Homo sapiens: one gene and its partner. The protein of the gene in region 1 purifies or fractionates together with the protein of each later gene. This does not show direct contact. Each region holds a gene or a part of one and is shown in the gene's direction. Other genes may lie near its edges. The genes, in order: CACNB4 and COLGALT2.

Evidence for each region.
Region 2: the proteins of CACNB4 (region 1) and COLGALT2 purify together in Homo sapiens (affinity purification with mass spectrometry; 2 studies listed by BioGRID and IntAct, with this or other methods). This does not show direct contact.

What each region holds. Positions count from the first base shown.
Region 1 is NC_000002.12:151,832,111-151,837,184, reverse strand, and holds the end of CACNB4 (voltage-dependent L-type calcium channel subunit beta-4), read left to right. Parts: 3' UTR 1-4,414; downstream 4,415-5,074. UniProt on the Homo sapiens protein: The beta subunit of voltage-dependent calcium channels contributes to the function of the calcium channel by increasing peak calcium current, shifting the voltage dependencies of activation and inactivation, modulating G protein inhibition and controlling the alpha-1 subunit membrane targeting.
Region 2 is NC_000001.11:183,943,614-183,950,913, reverse strand, and holds part of COLGALT2 (procollagen galactosyltransferase 2), read left to right. Parts: intron 1-5,349; coding exon 5,350-5,482; intron 5,483-6,590; coding exon 6,591-6,718; intron 6,719-7,300. UniProt on the Homo sapiens protein: Beta-galactosyltransferase that transfers beta-galactose to hydroxylysine residues of collagen.

The sequences.
Region 1 (5,074 bases):
TCTGTCATCTAGTGAAGCTTATAAAACTTTCAGTTAAGACATTTTAAAAGAGTTATATCCATTAGGCACTTTAATAAACATATAACCTGCCATTACTGAATACTTTGTTAGAACACAGAAGAGCATCTTCCAGCAAACAAAAATATATTTATTACATGTACAGCACATACTTGCATGAGAAAGAAAACATTAGCCAAAACATTTTTCTATATGCTTTACTGGTTTCTTGTTTATGCGCATTAAAGTATTTAATTGCAAAGAGTGCACCAAGGTGTACAAATTTAGACTAGACAGCTGTTCAGCTTTTTCTGTAGTAGCATTAGCAGTTTGGTCATTTAACTACTTTAAGATACTTACATTTTATGGCAGGTAGCTGTAACAGCATTTAAATATATTTCCTAGTCATCAAGATTACCATCTTCTTTCAACTTTTTAAAAGTCACTTGTTTTTAAAGGTTTTTCAAAGCCTTGTTTTTAGTCTTCCATGTCATGCCGATAAAGAGAGTCTCATTCAATATCTGTGCACAAAACCAATCTATCAATTACCATCAGATGTCCATACCTGTTTTGCTTTGCATTCTTATTCAAAAGCTGACAATCTTGGAAAGGGTATAATGTATATTTTATTGATGGATATATTTAAATGTTTACTTTAATTTGGAATATTCTTTCCCCTTCTTTCTGTAATAAGTTTATCTTCCTCAAATAAGGGGATATACATCTTATTTTTTTTAAAGACTTAAGAGTTTATTGTGTAAATGATACTTAAAATCTAGATATATACTAAATGAAAAGTTTTATTTTTGCCAAGCACACCAAGCACCTTTGAAAAATACATACTCCATACTTTGTTTTTAATTAATTTCATTTAAAGATAGCAAATGATTATAAGCAAGAGAAACAAGTCTTTTACTGTTTTGAGGCTGTTTTAACTTACAGTATAAGCCACATACTAGAATTCTGTAATTTCAGTCACAGACATATAATAATGTGGACTCATGTGACAATGTGGAAATGTAGTTCTGGAAAAAAACGAATGCAATTTGTCAATCCTGATGTTAATTCTCAAGGGTATAATGTCACTCTAATATTATAACCAACAACATTATCTTGTTTAATATTTAAAGCAACACTTAGAAATGTTTATAAATGATGATTCTCTCTTATCTTTATACAGTTCTATTGGAGAGAAGGTTGAAATTGTTCACAATTTAGATGATGGTCTTTCCTAATAAGAGTCTTAATTTTGTGACTATATAAGTCATTGCAGTTAGTCTTTAATGAAATGAATTTTATTAATGTAAAACAAATTCTGAGACAATTATTTGTTTCCTTTAAATAATCTGCTATTTAATTATTATTGTCGTTGTTTGCAAAATGTATTTTTGGAATGTTAACCTCTTTTCATACCTGCATACTTGAACTTGTCTTTTGTGTGGGGGCCTTAAAATTCATAATAGGAAGTGGAGGCAGTGAAAGGAAGTAAGAAAAGGAAATTATGCTAAAAGATGGTTTGCAAATTTAAATTCTTTAAATGAACATATCACAAAATGTTGTTAAGACCCAGGATGTCCGTTAAGAATGTGTCTTGGCAACCTTAATTTGCATGTTAGTATATATTTTCTTAGTTACACAGTTTTATTTTGGTATTTGCTTAAAAAATGTAATACCATTGTAGAAATTACCCTATGTACTGATATATTTACTACCTCTTCTCTAGAGAAGACAATCTGTCTTTAAAGGGAAAAACACTGGTCAATAAGTAGTGATCAAAATTATCACTATTCTGGCTAACCTTGCTGCAAAGCTAAATACATAGATTATTAAAATATGCCTTCCCTTTAGATTTTAAACTGTTTCCAAAATGCTGTTTGGCACCCTTTCATTTCTTCCACGTTAGTGAAGTTTTCTTTGAATTGGTTCACAGTTTATCATGAGGCAAGGTTAATTTAACAAATAAGTCATCATAGGGAACAAAACAAACTGCAAGGGAATTGCCTTTGTGTGCAACTTGTTATAATATCTAGTTCTAAGTCTAAAGGAGTAAAAGTCCAAAGACTTTATGTTTAAGAGCAGCTGGTTTGCAAATTCACATTTTGTTGGTCCTTGACTTCCACAGAGCATGACTTAGCCATTTACTGGGTAAGGATATGCATAATCTTGGACTCCCATGTAATTGGAATAAACTTCATATCAATGTTTCAAATAAATGCTATGTACCCCTTATTCCTTTTACATTTCTGCCTTTGTCTTTTATGACAATGTTGCATGTTGTGTTTTTTTAAATTATATAAAACTCATCCTTGAATGACTGTATGAATGAAAAATTTATAGGAAATTATGTAATAAAATCTGTTTTATTAGTTTCTCATACCTTTAAATACTGTCAATACTATAACTGTTAGTAAGTTACTTACTCAAGCTGTGTCTATGGGGCAGAGAACAGTCCTCTTCTTTAAAATAATCATGATCAAACCAGTCAAGTCAATCCAATTAGCTGTTAGACAGACAATAAGGATAACCTTCTTTTTGACTTAAGCAGTCAAGTTAGTCAAAATAGAAAAATTGGCTTATATGGGCACCCAGAACTACAGCATTCAAAAATTACTTTTAAAAGTTTCTTCTTTTATTAAAATGGACTTTCTTAAATAAAATACATCCTCTGATAGCAGCTATCTCTTTTTACTTGTAATGATTAATTCTAAATGCTTCATGTAATTGAGGGACATTATGAGAAGACTAGAAAGTATCTCATCAGATAATCCTAAGGGCTGTAACTTCTACTTGCCATAAACAAAGTATAATTAAGAGTGAGTAGCAATTGGTTTGGGGAGTCGTAGTTATATATGAAACTTTCTTTTGTTTCTCATGATGTATGTAAAATGTTTGCAGAAGGATGGTAGAAAATGTTACTAATGAATTTAGAGTGGTTTGGGAGAATACACTGATACTTCCTCATTTGAAAATTATAAGGAGTTACAAGGGGAACTAAGAACCAGAAGTGGCTGGCCTCTAGCTTTTCAATACCTGATAAGTGTTCTTGGTTATGTTTTGAACACTTAAATTTCTCAACAAATGGCTATGTCTATATTTATGTAGGGGCCACCCTTGCCCTACTTGCATGCCACTTTGACTTTTAACTGAAATCAGTGTGAATTCTGTATGCATAAGGGATGTAATAAAGAGGCGGGATCATTAACGCTATATCGTTGCATACTATTTTTCATATGCCTTACAATATTTTCTGGGATGTTATTAAAATGAAAGCATTTTATTGCCAAAATAAATCTATGTTGTTACTTATAATCTGCATTAGCAGTAGAAAAATAATGTAGCAAAAACATATTGTACAGTACAAAATTATAAAATATATATTTTGCCAATAATATAAAAATAGATTGAGGAGAAAGAAGCACATTTGTTATAGCACAAACTTATAACAAAATCCACCGTTAAATTTGGCAGTCATATTTTTTAAAAGTATGTCGATTTAGTTCTAAGTTTTGTCAGATTTACTTCATCTACCATCTTTTTAACTTGCTGCTTGATACTTTTCCAGCAATTTATTTCATAGCCTTGCAATCTGTGGATGTAATTTCTTTTGTTTTATTCCCTTCCATAAAATTTATTAAATTTTATTTTGTGATAACACTCATACCATATTTTCTCCTCTTATTTCTTCTCTTTCAATAACAACAGCAGAAAGTCACAGCAAGTGAGCTCATAGGGCTCCTCTGAATTTTGGACATGTGTGAGATTTTTGTATTTTTCACAGCCTCGAGTCAGAATGATCAATAAAGATGTCCCAACCACAAAAAATTATATTAGTTAGGGATTCTTTAATTTGTTTTGTACTGAATACTACTTTGAAACATAAGTTAAAGCCATTAGCTGTGTTTTTGTAGGGATGGTGGGAAGGAATAAAAAATAAATGTATTAACATAAAACATACTAAAACAGAAATATGGCAAAATGATGTAAAAAGATTTTTCCTACTATTCTGAGGGCTGTTGAAATCCCAGGCTATTGCTATATCTCCATTGACAAAGTGGGATAAAAAATGCCTTTGTCAAATAATTTTTTTTCTTTCTTTAAATTTTAGTTATTTATTTTAATAATTTGTCCCCTTTTATTTTTCTTATCTAGGTATGTGTAGCATTCTACAAGGCATGCTGGGTAAAATATACTATGCAAATGTGTACAGTGCTGCATGTTTTGTTCTCCCTCTGCTTTAGTGGCTTTAAAGAAAAAAACGTGGTGTTATTTTTGTGAATAAAAACATTAACAAAGAAAATGCAGAGTGCATGCATAGAGTATCCTCATTTCTATGGATTTGTTTTATGGAATTTAAATGTGTACAAAACAACTGCATTACTTTTTTTCTTTTATATAATAAATGAAAAAAACACTGAAACCAGCGTTATACCTCTCCTTTATATTATTCTAGAAATATATTGAAGAAATACTGGAAATCAATAGGTACTCTTTTATGAAAAAAAGAAAAAGTCTAAACATTTATCCTAAAAAGGGATTCAATCAAATGACTACTTTCTGAATACTCTGCCAGGTGCTGTGAGTGATCACAAAATAAGTACTGTATTAGGAAAGGGTTTATAAGTTAAATACACACACATGTGAAATAAAATACATTCGAATACATGTGCAAAATAGGATTGGATATAGAAAAATATACTAGATGAAGTATTATATTGTTCGCAAGTCATCCACTCCAAAATGATTAATATTGCAGTTATCAGACATTTCCAAAGCTATCTTGTACCTGTAAGAATTCCATAGTATGTATTTGGGGTCAATTGTCTATGTTAAGACTTGATTGGAATTTGACTTTTTTGTCATTTCACTGTATAGGAGATTCCAAAGAAATATGGACTATGTTGATTTTTATCACTGCATTAGGATTATACAGTGATTTATTAGAGTCAAGTTATTTCACAATTATCACATTTAATTCATCTGATCACCCAGGAAAGTAGGCCGGGCATGGATTATGAGATACAAATACAAATGAGGAAACCAAAGTTCACTGAAACTTCTCTCTCAAAAGAATTTTTCT
Region 2 (7,300 bases), on another chromosome or scaffold:
CTTCGGTCATTAGAGGATAGTCTTATTTTCAAAACGGCCACCTGTAGTAGCATTTAAGTTAATTTCATCCTGTAGAGCAGGCCTGAAATCCACTCACCAGCCAGTGGTCTTTGGTCTTCATTACACTGAAGGCTCACATTGGATGTGATTGTCCCGTCTCTGGGGGTTCTTGCAACAGTTGTGGTGGTTTTCAGCCTTCTGTAGTGTAACAGAAGGAATGTGTTCAGAATTGTGTTCAGAGCTGAATTAGAGCATAAAGTGCTGAAACTTGGTCAATCTGAAGAAAATAGATGGAAAATGCATAAAGGTGTACATTTCCTGTTGCATGAGATGCCTGCCACAATCTGCCTGGACCGATCATAGTGGCCACTTTTCCTGGAAATATGGCAGGAAAGTAACACAGGGAACCTAGTTAGATCCCTTCTTTTTTTTTTTTTTTATTTTGTTCAGCTTTGCCCTTTTATTTGACACCCTAAACTATTTCAAGGCATAGATTTTTATAAAATGTGCCTTTCCATGTTATATGTTGGTTTAGAATATCAGTAGCTTTGTTTTCTATTTGCATAACTCCAACTAAGGAGTATGGCTAGCAGCTGTTGAAGTTTTTATGACTCCCTTAGAGAATCTCATCAGTGTTTCCCAAAGTGTGACCTGGACACTCACATCAGAGTCCCCACGGATGGTTAAGGGGACAGCTCCCTCAGTCCCATCTCAGACCTGCTGAATTATGCTCTCTGAGGCTGGACCCAGGATCTGCATTTAAGAAGCCTCAAGGTGATTCTTAGACAGGATTGCCCCATAAAATACTGGATAGCCAGTTAAATTTGTCCCAAACATCACATGGGGCTTGGTTATACTAAAAAATTATCCATTATTTATCTGAAACTTAAATTTGACTGAGTGTTTTGTGTTTTTCACTTCCTAAATCTGTCAGCCCTATTCTTGGGTGCAGTAGAGTTTAGGAACCACTGCTTCAAATACCTCCAAGAACACCAGTCCCATTCATAGACCACATGGACCAGGGAAACTAGTTGAGTAGTGAGAGTTCTTTATATATCCTGGATGCAAGTCCTTTATCAGATATGTAATTGTCAAATATTTTCTTTAACTTTATGCATTATTGATTGTCACAATTTCATGATGGTATACATTGAAGCAAAAGAGTTTTTCATTTTGATGAAATCCAATTTATTTTTTGTTCTTGTTGCTAGTAATTTTAGTGTCATACCTAAGAATCCATTGTCAATTTCAAAGCCATGAAGATTTACTTCATGAAATTTTCTTCTGAGAGTTCTACAGTTTTATCTATTACATTTAGGTATTTGATCTATGTTGAGTAAATTTTTGTATATGGCATGAGGCAGGGATCCATATTCATTCTTTTGCACATGGTTATCCATTTGTCCCTTCACCATTTGTTAAAAAGACTTTCGTTTCCCTCGTAGAATTGTCTTGGCACCATTGTAAAAAGCCAGTTGCCCATAAATGTAAGGATTTATTTCTGAACTCTCTATTTTATTTGATTGATCTATATGTCTATCCTTATGCCAGTACTATACCGTCTTGATGACTGTAGCTTTGTATTTAAGAAGTATGAGTCCTTCAATTTTGTTATTCTTTTTCGAGTTTGTCTCAGCTATTCTGGGTCCCTTACTTTTTCCATATGAATTTTAGAATTAGCTTGTCAAGTTCCACAAATAAAGAAAACGGCAGCTGGGATTTTGATAGGAATTGCATTGAGTCTGTAGATCAACTGGGAGAATATTTCCGTGTTAACAATATGAAGTCTTCTGATTCGTAATCATGGAATGTCTTTTTATTATTTAGATCTTCTTTAGTTCTTTGAATGATGTTTTGTCATTTTCAGTATACAAGTCTTGCATTTATTTTGTTAAATATACTCCTAAGTATTTTACTCTTTTGATGCTATGGTACATGGAACTATTTCCTTAGTTCTATTTTCAGATTGTTCATTGCTAAATGAATAAGAATACAATTGATTTTTGTATATTGATCCTGTATCCTGCAACCTTGCTGAACCCTTTTTATCAGTTCTAATAGTACTTTTTCCTTTGTGTGTGTATATTCCTTAGGATCTTCTACATACAAGACCATGTCACATGCAAGTAGAGATAGTGTTATATGTTCCTTTCAAACCTGGATACCATTTATTTCTTCTTCATGTCCAACTACCCTTGCTGGATCATCAAGTACAATGTTGAATAGAACTGTTGAGTGCAGTTTCTTGATTTGTTCCTGATCTTAGAGGGAAAGCATTCAGTCCGTCACTGCTAAGTATGATGTTAATTGTGGGTTTTTCACAGATGGCCTTTACTGGGTTGAGGAAGGTCCCTTTTAGTCCTATTTTGTTGAGTATTTTTATCATAAAAGGGTATTGGATTTTGTCAAATGGTTTGTCCGTGTCTATTAAGATGAACATGTGACTTTTGCCTGTTAATATGGTACGTTACTTTGATTGGTTTTCACATGTTAAACCAAACTTGCAACCCTGGGATAATCCTGGGACCCATTTGGTCATGCTGTATAATTCCTTTTATAAATTGCTGGATTCTCTTGCTAGTATTTGCTTGAAGATTTCCACATCTATATTAATAAGTGATATTGGTCTGCAGTTTTCTTATAATGTTTTTGGTTTTGTATCAAAATAATATTGGCTTCATAAAATCAGCTGGGATGTGTTCCCTCCTCCTCTTTTTTTTTGGAAGTTTGTGAAAGATTCGTGTTAACAATTTTTAAACATTTGGCAGAAACCCCTAGTGAAGCCATCTGGTTCTAGGCTTTTCTTTATGGAAATTTTTTTTATTACTAATTAAACTTCTTTTCTTGTTATTTATTTACTTTCTATTTCTTCTTGAGTCAATTTTGGTAGTTTGTACCTTCCTATCAATTTGTCCATTTCATCTAGGTTATCTAATTTGTTGCCATACAATTGTTCATAGTATTATCATATAATCTTTTTTACTTTCATAAGGTCAGTAGGAGTGACCCCTCTTTCATTCTTGACTTTAATAGTTTGAGTTTACTTTTTTTTAATTCATCAGTTTAGGCAAATAATTGTCAATTTTGTTGATCTTTTCAGAGGACTGACTTTTGGTTTTGTTGATTTTTCTCTATTGTTTTTCTATTCTCTAGTTCATTTATTTGTACTGTAACCTTTATTATTTTCTTCCTCCTGTTTGCTTTGGGTTTAATTTTCTCTTTATCTAGTTTCTTAAGATGGATGGGAGGATTATTATTTGAGATATTCTATTTTACTAGAGACATTTGCAGCTGTAACTATATCTCCAAGTACTATGTTAAGTGTATCGCATAAGTTTTGGTATGCTGTGTTTTCATTCATCTCAAAATATTTTCTAATTTCCCTTGCAATTTCTTCTTTGACCCATTGGTTAGGAGTGTATTGTTTAATTCCACATTTCTGAATTTCCCAAGTTTCCTTTGGTTATTGATTTTTAATTTCAAACCATTGAGGTTGGAGAACATACCTTGTGTGATTTCAATCCTTTTAAGTATACTGACACTTAATTTATGACCTATATGGTCTTTATGGTCTAAAAAATGGTATTTCTTAGAGAATGTTCTATGCACACTTGAAAGTGTGTATTTGGCTATTGTTGGGTGGAATGTTCTATAGATGTCTGCTAGGTCTGATTATTTTAAGATATTATTCAAGTCTTCTGTTTCCTTGTCTTCCTCCTGCCTAGTTCTATTATTGCAGGTGGGATATTGATGTCTTCCCCTATTATTGTTGAATTGTCTGTTTCTCCTTTCAATTCTTCCAGTTTCATGGTTCTGAGGTTCTGTTAGGTGCATATGTATTTATAATTGTTATGCCTTCCTGATGGATTGACCTTTTTTTTTTGAGATGGAGTCTTGCCCTGTCACCCAGGCTGCAGTGCAATGGCACGATCTTGGCTCACTGCAAGCTCCAGCTCCCAGATTCACACCATTCTCCTGCCTCAGCCTCCCAAGTAGCTGGGACTACAGGCACCCACCACCATGGCCGGCTAATTTTTTGTATTTTTAGTAGAGATGGGGTTTCACCGTGTTAGCCAGGATGGTCTCGATCTCCAGACCTTCTGATCTGCCCACCTCGGCCTCCCAAAGTCGTGGGATTACAGGCGTGAGCCACCACTCCCGGCCCAGATTAACCTTTTTATCATTAAAAAATGTCCTTCCTTGGCTCTAGCATGAATTTTGTCTGAGATTTATTTTGCCCAATATTAGCATAGCTCTGCCAGCTCTCTTGTCATTGCTGATTATATGGTATATCTTTTTCTATTCTTTTACTTTCAACCTATTTTTGTCTTTTAATCTAAAGGCTGCCTCTTATAGATACCACATGGTTGTATTAATTTTTAAAACTTACTATGCCAAATTCTTCCTTCATTGCAGTGTTTTATTCATTTGCCTTCACTACATTTTTTTCCAGATCCTTAAGGTCAGCCAGAGGTGAGAGACTAGGGACTTCTCAAGTTTTTCCTGGGCGTGTGGACAGCCCTGAATATGCCTGGGGCCTTCTAGATTCTCAGGGATATTTTGGAGCAAATCAAACTCCCTATGGACCTCTTATTCCTTGGTTTTTCCTTTTAAGTTTTTTGGTGGGCTTCTTGTTAGCATCAGCTGATAATGCTTCTCAAACAGCTGTAATGTTAAACAGTTGTTGCTCATGGGTTTTGACAAATGACCTGCAGATAGTGCTGTTCACAGAAAATGAACTCTGAGTCAGGTCAAATCAAGACAAGCTCTGAGAATGTAGCTTTTCAAGGAGCTACTAGACAGGTTGAATAGAGATTATTTTCTGGGGGCAGGTCTTTAAGGGAGTCTCAGTCCATTTTGTCCCTGCCAGTGGCTTCTGGGTTGGTGGGGTTTGCCGCTCTCTTAGTTGTGAGGCTACTGGTTTTCAAGGCTTTTGTAGGGCTGGGGTGAACAGGTTAGGATTAGGGCAGCTGTGAACTTCACAAAGCTCACTGTGTTAACAGAGATTCAGCAGTAGGTCTTGATCAAACACTCCTTGGATTATTGCAGTACTTTAACTAATTTCCATAGGAGTGTACTTATTAAATCTTGTCAAAAAACTGATGATGCTTAGAACTATGTTGGGCACTATGAGGGATACACAAAAATATGATACCCTCTTGTCTTCCCAGACCTCATAATACTAGTGTGACACATTAGCCTGGAGGAACTTCTAAGGAATAAAGGGAAGCCTCTCTGTCTTTGTCTGTGTGGGGGAGGGGTGTTTGCAGAACTAACTCTCTCTTTCTCTGGCCTTTGTGGTGGGGACCTTTGACTTGTTAATCTCCAGACGTGTTTTATGTGATGCAGGGCACTCAACACAAGCCAGCTGAAGGCACTGAATATTGAAATGCTGCCTGGCTATCGAGATCCCTATTCCTCCAGGCCTCTAACAAGGGGTGAAATCGGCTGCTTTCTCAGCCACTACTCAGTCTGGAAAGAGGTAAATAATGCTTTATTCAGATTGCAGTTTTATGATGAGGAGAAAGGAAAGCAGGCTATCGTAGGTGAGTTAGGGCCAGATGTAAAGTGAGCCCGCAACTGTTCTGGAAATGTGCATGAGAGCTGCTCCTGCCTTGTGTCTCCCTCTGACCCAAGACCAGCAACAAAGGGGCAAGGAGGAGTAGCTTTGGTGCCACTTGGGGTGGTGACGGGGGAGACACCCATGTCCTGTGTGCCACACTCTTATTAATTCATTATCATCATTAGCAGGAATGCCTTCTATTATACCTATTATGACATCACTTATTAAGTGATTTTATACAAGAAATCACACAGAAGTCATGTGAGGTGGGTTGGGAAGGACAGACCACCTTTACCGAAGAAGAAATTATTAAGTAGCTTGACCCGGTAAGAAGTGGCAGAGCCAGAAGTGGAACCCCTGTCTTACAGATCAAGACATATCTGGAGCAGATATTGGTGTGTGGGGTTCCTGATAAACAGTCAGTTTCCACAACCAAAAAGAAAGTCCCTGAAGAAAGGCCCCTTGAACACTTTCTCTTTTAATGATCCAGTCTATGCCTGCCTTTGTTTTCTTTAAACTTTAAGTGAAATGTGATAAATAGGTATAAAAAGATATAGATCAAAAGATACAGCTCAGGGAAATTTCACAAACCAAACAACACACCCATGTTAATCAGTACACAGATCCAGAAGCAGGTAACCAGCATCCCACAAGCACCCCCCCACCCCGTACTGCCTTCTGGTCATCAGTCCCCAAGGGCAGTCACCATCCTGACTTCTAAAGGCATTGAATAGCTTTACCTTTGTTTGTACTTTCCCTTATATGAATGGAATCATGCAGTATGTGTACTCTCCTAACATGACATTTAGGAGATTCACCTATAACGTTGCGTTTAATTGTGATCATATATCCTCACTGCTGTGAATATTCCAAAGTTTATTATCTATTCTACTGTTGATGGCCATTTGCTTAGATTCCAGTTATGAATCTGTGCTACTAGACTCGTGACTTTTTAATACTTATTTATCTAATAAAAATTGGGTTTCAAACTTTTCATAGGGTATCTTCCTACTGATGACTTTTGCAGGTAATTGATCGAGAGCTAGAGAAGACTCTTGTAATTGAAGACGATGTGCGTTTTGAGCATCAGTTTAAGAAGAAGCTGATGAAGCTGATGGATAACATTGACCAGGCTCAGCTGGACTGGGAACTGATGTGAGTGACAAGATGATCTTACGAGAGGGCTCTGAGAGGCACTCAGTCCTTTCCAATGCGCAGAGAGCCCCACCTCCACAGCCAGTAGGAGATACAGCTTAAGCTTCCACTTATCTAGTTTTCTTTCCATAAATGTTCTCAGAAATAAAAATGGGTAGAGGTTAGCCACTGGATTTTGCATCCTTCTACTCTTCAGGGTGGGAAACTGTGGAAGATTGTCTGAGACCTGGAGTCGGCCTGCAGATCAGGGACCTTCAGACAGAACCAAGGTGTGGCACTGAGCACTTACTTAGGAGCACAGCAGAAATCCCACCCTCAATTAACGTGGCACATGGAGTGGGTGTGAAGCTGGAGAAGAGGCCATTTATTCAAGCTCTAAAGTCCTGTGTCATATTTAAGACTCAGCTCCCGGGACAGCAGGTTGCCTCTGCAGCTTCCGAGAAGGTGGGAGGTTAGAGGGTCAGCCAGGGAGCTCCTCTGTTGGGAAATGGGGCTGCACAAACATGAAGAACATGGACAACTAGATTTGGGGAAGGGTCTGAGGCTGATGCAGGAAAACCAGGCTCACCAAGGGAGTGCTGG